Regions from separate parts of the Homo sapiens genome. Here region 1 is linked to region 2. The links come from fine-mapping of genetic effects on gene expression. A gene starts in region 2. The other region holds a variant in brackets. All regions are shown on one strand. Distances are between the middles of the regions.

What was found. PIP is the estimated chance that this variant, and not a neighbour inherited with it, causes the effect.
Region 1: its variant is fine-mapped to the expression of FDXACB1 in fibroblasts (GTEx, PIP 0.95).

What each region holds. Positions count from the first base shown.
Region 1 is chr11:111,904,196-111,907,112 of GRCh38, reverse strand. No RefSeq gene overlaps it. Among named protein-coding and RNA genes, the nearest start is that of CRYAB, 6.1 kb to the left of the region's middle. The variant C/G (reference allele first, on the strand shown) is at 1,400.
Region 2 is chr11:111,877,662-111,880,578 of GRCh38, reverse strand. FDXACB1 (ferredoxin-fold anticodon binding domain containing 1) reads left to right here and starts at 1,414. Exons shown (of 5, transcript NM_138378.3): 1 at 1,414-1,618; 2 at 1,867-2,023. The coding sequence starts at 1,447. CFAP68 (cilia and flagella associated protein 68) reads right to left here and starts at 1,038. Exons shown (of 4, transcript NM_022761.3): 1 at 974-1,038. The coding sequence starts at 1,018. RefSeq lists enhancers at 1,161-1,630, 1,127-1,746.

The sequences.
Region 1 (2,917 bases), 27 kb before region 2:
TTAAAACTTAATAAAAAAATTCATGATGCAGGGGTGTGGAGCTAGGACAATATAAATTGCAAATCTATACCGGTTCAAAAATGCTTTCTCTTAAAAAACAACTTCCTAATAGTCTGAAATACTGTGATCTAGCCAGAAGTTTACAGCCAATTTTTGTGGCTGTGTAGCAGACACTGTTGGTTGCCTAACCAACAGCTATTTACCACCTTCAGCCTTGCCAACAGTATCCCAGATTGGTTTAGGTATACACCATGTTCTTCCTAGCCATGTGCTTCAGAGAAGTGAACTCAAGCTCCAGCCATAGGAGGTCTATCTTGATTAGTCCAAATCAAGCAGGGAAATTCTCTTCTTGATTTTCAAGATTATTCTTGAAAGGGCTATGACTCAATTATGGCAAATGAGACAGGAGGGAAGTCTGTTGGAGATGCTTCTAGAAAAAGTTTCTAAACTAAGAAAAGATTTCAGAAAGATTCAGAGAGAGAGAGAGAGAGATTTTTTTTTTCCTTGCTCTGGATGTTGGAGCACGAGAATGTGATGCCTGGATTACTGTAGCCATTTTGAAAACGTGAAGCGGGCATCCATGATATGCTGAGCACAAAGACAATAATCTCAGGTCCTTAATGGGTCAATGAACTGCTGAATTAGCCAACTCTAGAGTTTCCCTACTTCAGGCTGTCTGATTATGTCTTGTTTTTGTTAATAATCTGTTTTGACGTGGGTTTTCTGTTACTAGTAGGCAAAAATATCTAACATTATCAAGGCTGAATTAGATAGTGTAAAATAACTGAATGCCTGGAAGCCATGTGTCAATTTTAATCATTTTAGTTAATTACTAGTATATTTCCCAAGCAATTATGGACTTGGTTTTAAATAAATCACAACTTCGACTATTATATAATGATATTTGTTTCAAAAATGTGCAGGGCCACTTTTTTTGTTTATTGTCACCATAAGTGCCTAAGTTAGACTGGTTCTTTATTGTTATTCTTTCCTAGATCACACCCTTTGCTGTGGCTATTCACTGCTACGATATTAGTATAGGACTATTCTAGTACAGTATATTTGAGAGGTTTTTTTTTTTAGCTTTATAGCTAACTCATCCACAATTCTACTTCATTCCCTATATCTGAATTATACCAGAAGTTTACTGAGACAATTCTAATTAGTATTTGTTTTGTCTTTTAATGTTAGCTAACATTTATTGAGCACTGTATTAGTCCATTCTCACATTGCTATAAAGAACTGGCTGAGACTGGGTAATTTATAAAAAAAGAGGTTTAATCATTTCACAGTTCCACAGGAAGCATGGCTGGGGGGGCCTCAGGAAACTTACAATCATGGTGGGAAGGCAAAGGGGAAGCAGGCACATCTTACATGGCTGGAGCAGGAAGAAGAGAGA[C/G]CGAAGGGGGAAGTGCTACACACTTTTAAACAACCAGGTCTCATGAGAACTCGACTCACTATCATGAGAAAAGCTATGAAGTCCACTCCCATGATCCAGTCACCTCCCACCAGGCCCCTCTGCCAACATTGAGGATTACAATTTGGCATGAGACTTAGGTGGGGACACAGAGCCAAGCCATATCAAGCACTTACTGTGTGGTAGGCACTGTGCTAAGTGCTTTAACCTTTTTAAAGCAATCATTTTTTAAAGAAGAATTCTGGGGAATGTGTGTATAATATATATATGTTATTTCAGTAAGATGTAATACTTAGAAAATGAGATGGTTATCTTTGCCTAATGCTTTTGGAATGATACATATTTTTATGCTTCGAAAAATTCTATGCTACTTTTTACTTCACATTTTTATTTTGAAGATTGCACTGGGTCCGATTGTTGTTCTGAAGATTTATAATTGCTGTTCATTCAATGATTATTTGAGTGCCTTCTATGTGCTAGCTACAAAAATAAGACATGTTTTCTTAAGGAATTAAGAATTGAGTGGAAGAGCAGGCAAGTAAAAAGATAATTCCGAGATACCTTTTTAAGATCCTAAGATGTCCATTCAAAATGTCTGCTATGGGGACCCTGAAGGGAAATACCTATTCTGGACACAGAAGGAGTCCTGGAGACAGTTACCCTGGATGAATTTTGGTTGGTTGGTTGGTTTTTGTGTTGTTGTTGTTGTTTGCAGTGGCATGATGTATTAGTCCGTTTTTATGCTACGGATAAAGACATACCTGAGGCTGGGTAATTTATAAACAAAAAGAGGTTTAATGGACTCACAATTCCACGTGTTTGGGGAGGCCTCACAGTCATGGCAGAGGGTGAAAGGCACATCTTACATGGTGGCAGACAAGAGAGAAATGAGAACCAAGTGAAAAGGGTCTCCCCTTATAAAACCATCAAATCTTGTGAGACTTATTCACTACCAAAGAACCGTATGGGGGAAACTTCCCCCATGATTCAATTATCTCCCACCAGGTCCCTCCCACAACACATGGGAATTATGGGAGCTACAATTCAAGATGAGATTTGGGTGGGGACACAGCCAAACAATATTACATGATTACAGCTCATGGCAGCTTCAACCTCCTGGGCTCAAGCCACCTTCCTGCCTCAGCTTCCCAAGTAGCTGGGACTACAGGCCTGAGCCACCATGCTGGGCTTTTTTTTTTTTTAGAGACAAGGTCTCACTATGTTGCCCAGGCTGTTCTTGAACTCCTGGGCTCAAGGAAGCCTCCTGCGTTGGCCTCCCAAAGTGCTGGATTTATAGGCATGAGCCACCACATCTGACCTCCTGACTGAATTTTTGTTAATTAAATATTTTTTTTTTTTAGACAAAGTCTGACTTTGTCGTCCAGGCTGAAATGCAGTGACATGATCACAACTCACTGCAGCCTTGACCTTCCAGGCTTAAGTGCTTCTCCCACCTCAGCCTTCTGAGTAGCTGAGACTGCAGATGCATACCACCACACC
Region 2 (2,917 bases):
TGACTTTGCCATGGCATTTGTAAACTGTCATGGCGCTGGTGGGAGTGTAGCAATGAGGATGACCAGAGATCACTCTCATCACCATCTCGGTTTTGGTGGATTTTAGCTGGCTTCTTTACTGCAACCCGTTTTATCAGCAAGGTCTTTATGACCTGTATCTTGTGCTGAGCTATCTCATCCTGTGACTAAGAATGCCTTAACTTACTGGGAATGCAGCCCAGGTCTTAGCCTTATTTACCTAGCCCCTATTCAAGACGGAGTTGCTCTGGTATAAATACCTCTGACATTCTCACTTATAAGTGGGAGCTAAACATTGAGCAAACATGGACCTAAACATGGAAACAACACACACTCCAGGCTACTAACTAGAGTGGGGAGGGCGGGTGGTGTGGGTTGAAAAACTATTAGGTGCAATATACCCATGTAGCAAACCTGCAACCTACCTGGGTGCAATATATCCACGTAACAAACCTGTACCTGTACCCCCATTTGTAAAATAAAAGTTGATTTTTTTTAAAGGCTTACAACGCTCCCTATGACCTGGCCCCTGCCTAACTCTTCAGTCTCATCTGTTACTCTCCCTCCAATTGTGTTTCAGCCAAACTCAACTATTCTGTTTCTCCATCAAGCTTTTGCATATATTGTTCCTTCTGCCTCTTCACGCCTCTTGACTCAGTTAAGATGCACTTTTACCCTGTTAGCTTTCAACTCGGGTTTACTTCATCCAAGGACTCTCTGACCCTCTTCGCCCCCAAACTTGGTAACGTTCTTCTGTGTGCTCCCAGAGCACACACCCTGCCATATCAGAGTTGCCTGTTTTGCTCTGTGCATTCCCCACCAGACTGCAGGCTCATTGAAATCATAGGCCACATTTTGTTCATCCACATATCGTAACCACCCTCACAGTGGCCTGGCACGCAATAGACACTCAATACTCTTTCTTGAACGAATAGAAGATAGGAGATTTAAGCACCTGGAAGAGAAATTTTGAGCAGCAGAGACACTGGGAGGCAGCCATTTCAGACGAGGTGAAAAAAGGTTCAAAACCTTCTGCGTCAGGAGCATGCGAGACACAGTCCAACCTCTTCCTTGGCCTCAGCCCCGCCCCGTTTCTTTCACCCAGAACTCGCCTCACCCCCCTGCGCTAGTGACTGCTTGTGACCTCATGCAGGTGTGATGAAGTCGCTCAAGGCCATGCTTGGGCTAAAGACACTTTGATCTTCCCGAGGGGGTGAAAGGGCGAGGTGACAGGAAAGTGCGCGTCTTGCTTTTGCACTCATAGTTATCATCCACCGGGGAGTCGGTACACCGGCTCGTCTAGACAACCAGGCGCCATGGGTGCGTCATCAACTAGTGACGGGAGAAGACGGGGCGGAGAGAGATCCGTGAAGGAAGTGACGTAAAACGAGCGCCACAGAGAACGCGAGCCGGGAGTCCGTGGAGGCCATGGCCCCTCGGCGCCTCCTGTTGGTTGGGGAGGGGAATTTCTCCTTCGCCGCCGCTCTGAGCGAAACCCTGGATCAGAGCACTCAACTTACCGCCACCTGCCTCCAGCGCCCGGCCGAGTTGGCTCGGGATCCACTGGCCTGGGAGAATCTGCAGTGCCTGCGCGAGCGAGGTAGCGAGCCCGCCCCTCTGCGAAACCCCGCCCAGCGGCCGGCGCGTCCCAAAGTGGAAAGGGTGGGGGCGTGGGGATGTAACCCACGTGGAGATTGTTCTTGATCGTCCCACGGATATTCACATAAAGCCGGCTTTGTGCCCAGACTTGGGCTGGTCTGCACGGTTTAAGTTAGGAAGAGTTTTTCTGTTCCATGTCTTGAGGCATCCTCCTGTCTATATTTTGCGCCCCCAAACTATCTTTGCCAGGTATCGATGTACGTTTCGGTGTGGACTGCACCCAGCTGGCAGATGTCTTTGAACTGCACGAGAGAGAATTTGATCAAATTTATTTCATCTTCCCGCATTGTGGACGCAAAGCTGGCGTAGCTAAGAACAGGGAACTGCTTGCCAAATTTTTCCAAAGGTGAGGAAAGGAGCGCCCTCACAAGGAAAATGTTTAAGATGTCCATAACATAGTTACTGTACCCAAACATAAGGCACACGTGCAAGCTACTATGATATGTTTAGAAGAGACTATAAAGCCCCAAAGGAACCCCAAGTTTAGTTGGAAAGACAGATATATAAACCCTAAATGCTAAATGAAAGTACAAATAATGTACTCTTGGGTGTGTAAAAGAGGATCATTTATTTTTGACAGTGCAAAATAATGAGAGCCATATAGTCTAATGGCTAAGAACGTGCACTTAGAAGCCAGACTGCCTGGATTCAAATCCCAGCCCACCACTTAACAGTTGTTATTTTTTTATTTTTATTTATTTTTATTTTTTGAGACAGAGTCTCGCCCTGTCGCCCAGGCTGGAGTGCAGTGGTGTGGTGCAATCTCGGCTCACTGCAAGCTCCGCCTACTGGGTTCACGCCATTCTCCTGCCTCAGCCTCCCAAGTAGCTGGGAGTACAGGCGCCCGCCACCACGCCCAGCTAATTTTTTGTATTTTTAGTAGAGATGGGGTTTCACCGTGTTAGCCAGGATGGTGTCGATCTCCTGACCTTGTGATCCGCCTGCCTTGGCCTCCTAAAGTGCTGGGATTACAGGCATGAGCCACCACGCCCGGCCAACAGTTGTTATTTTAAGCAAGCTTACTTAATCTTTACATGCTTCCGTTTCCTCAACTGTAAACTAGGGATATTAATAGTAACTAACTGGGCCAGGCGTGGTGGCTCATGCCTGTAATCCCAGCAGTTTGGGAGGCCGAGGTGAGCAGATCACCTGAGGTCAGGAGTTTGAGACCAGCCTGGCCAAAGTGGCAAAACCCCGCCTCTACTAAAAATATAAAAATTAGCTGGCCGTGCTGGCACGT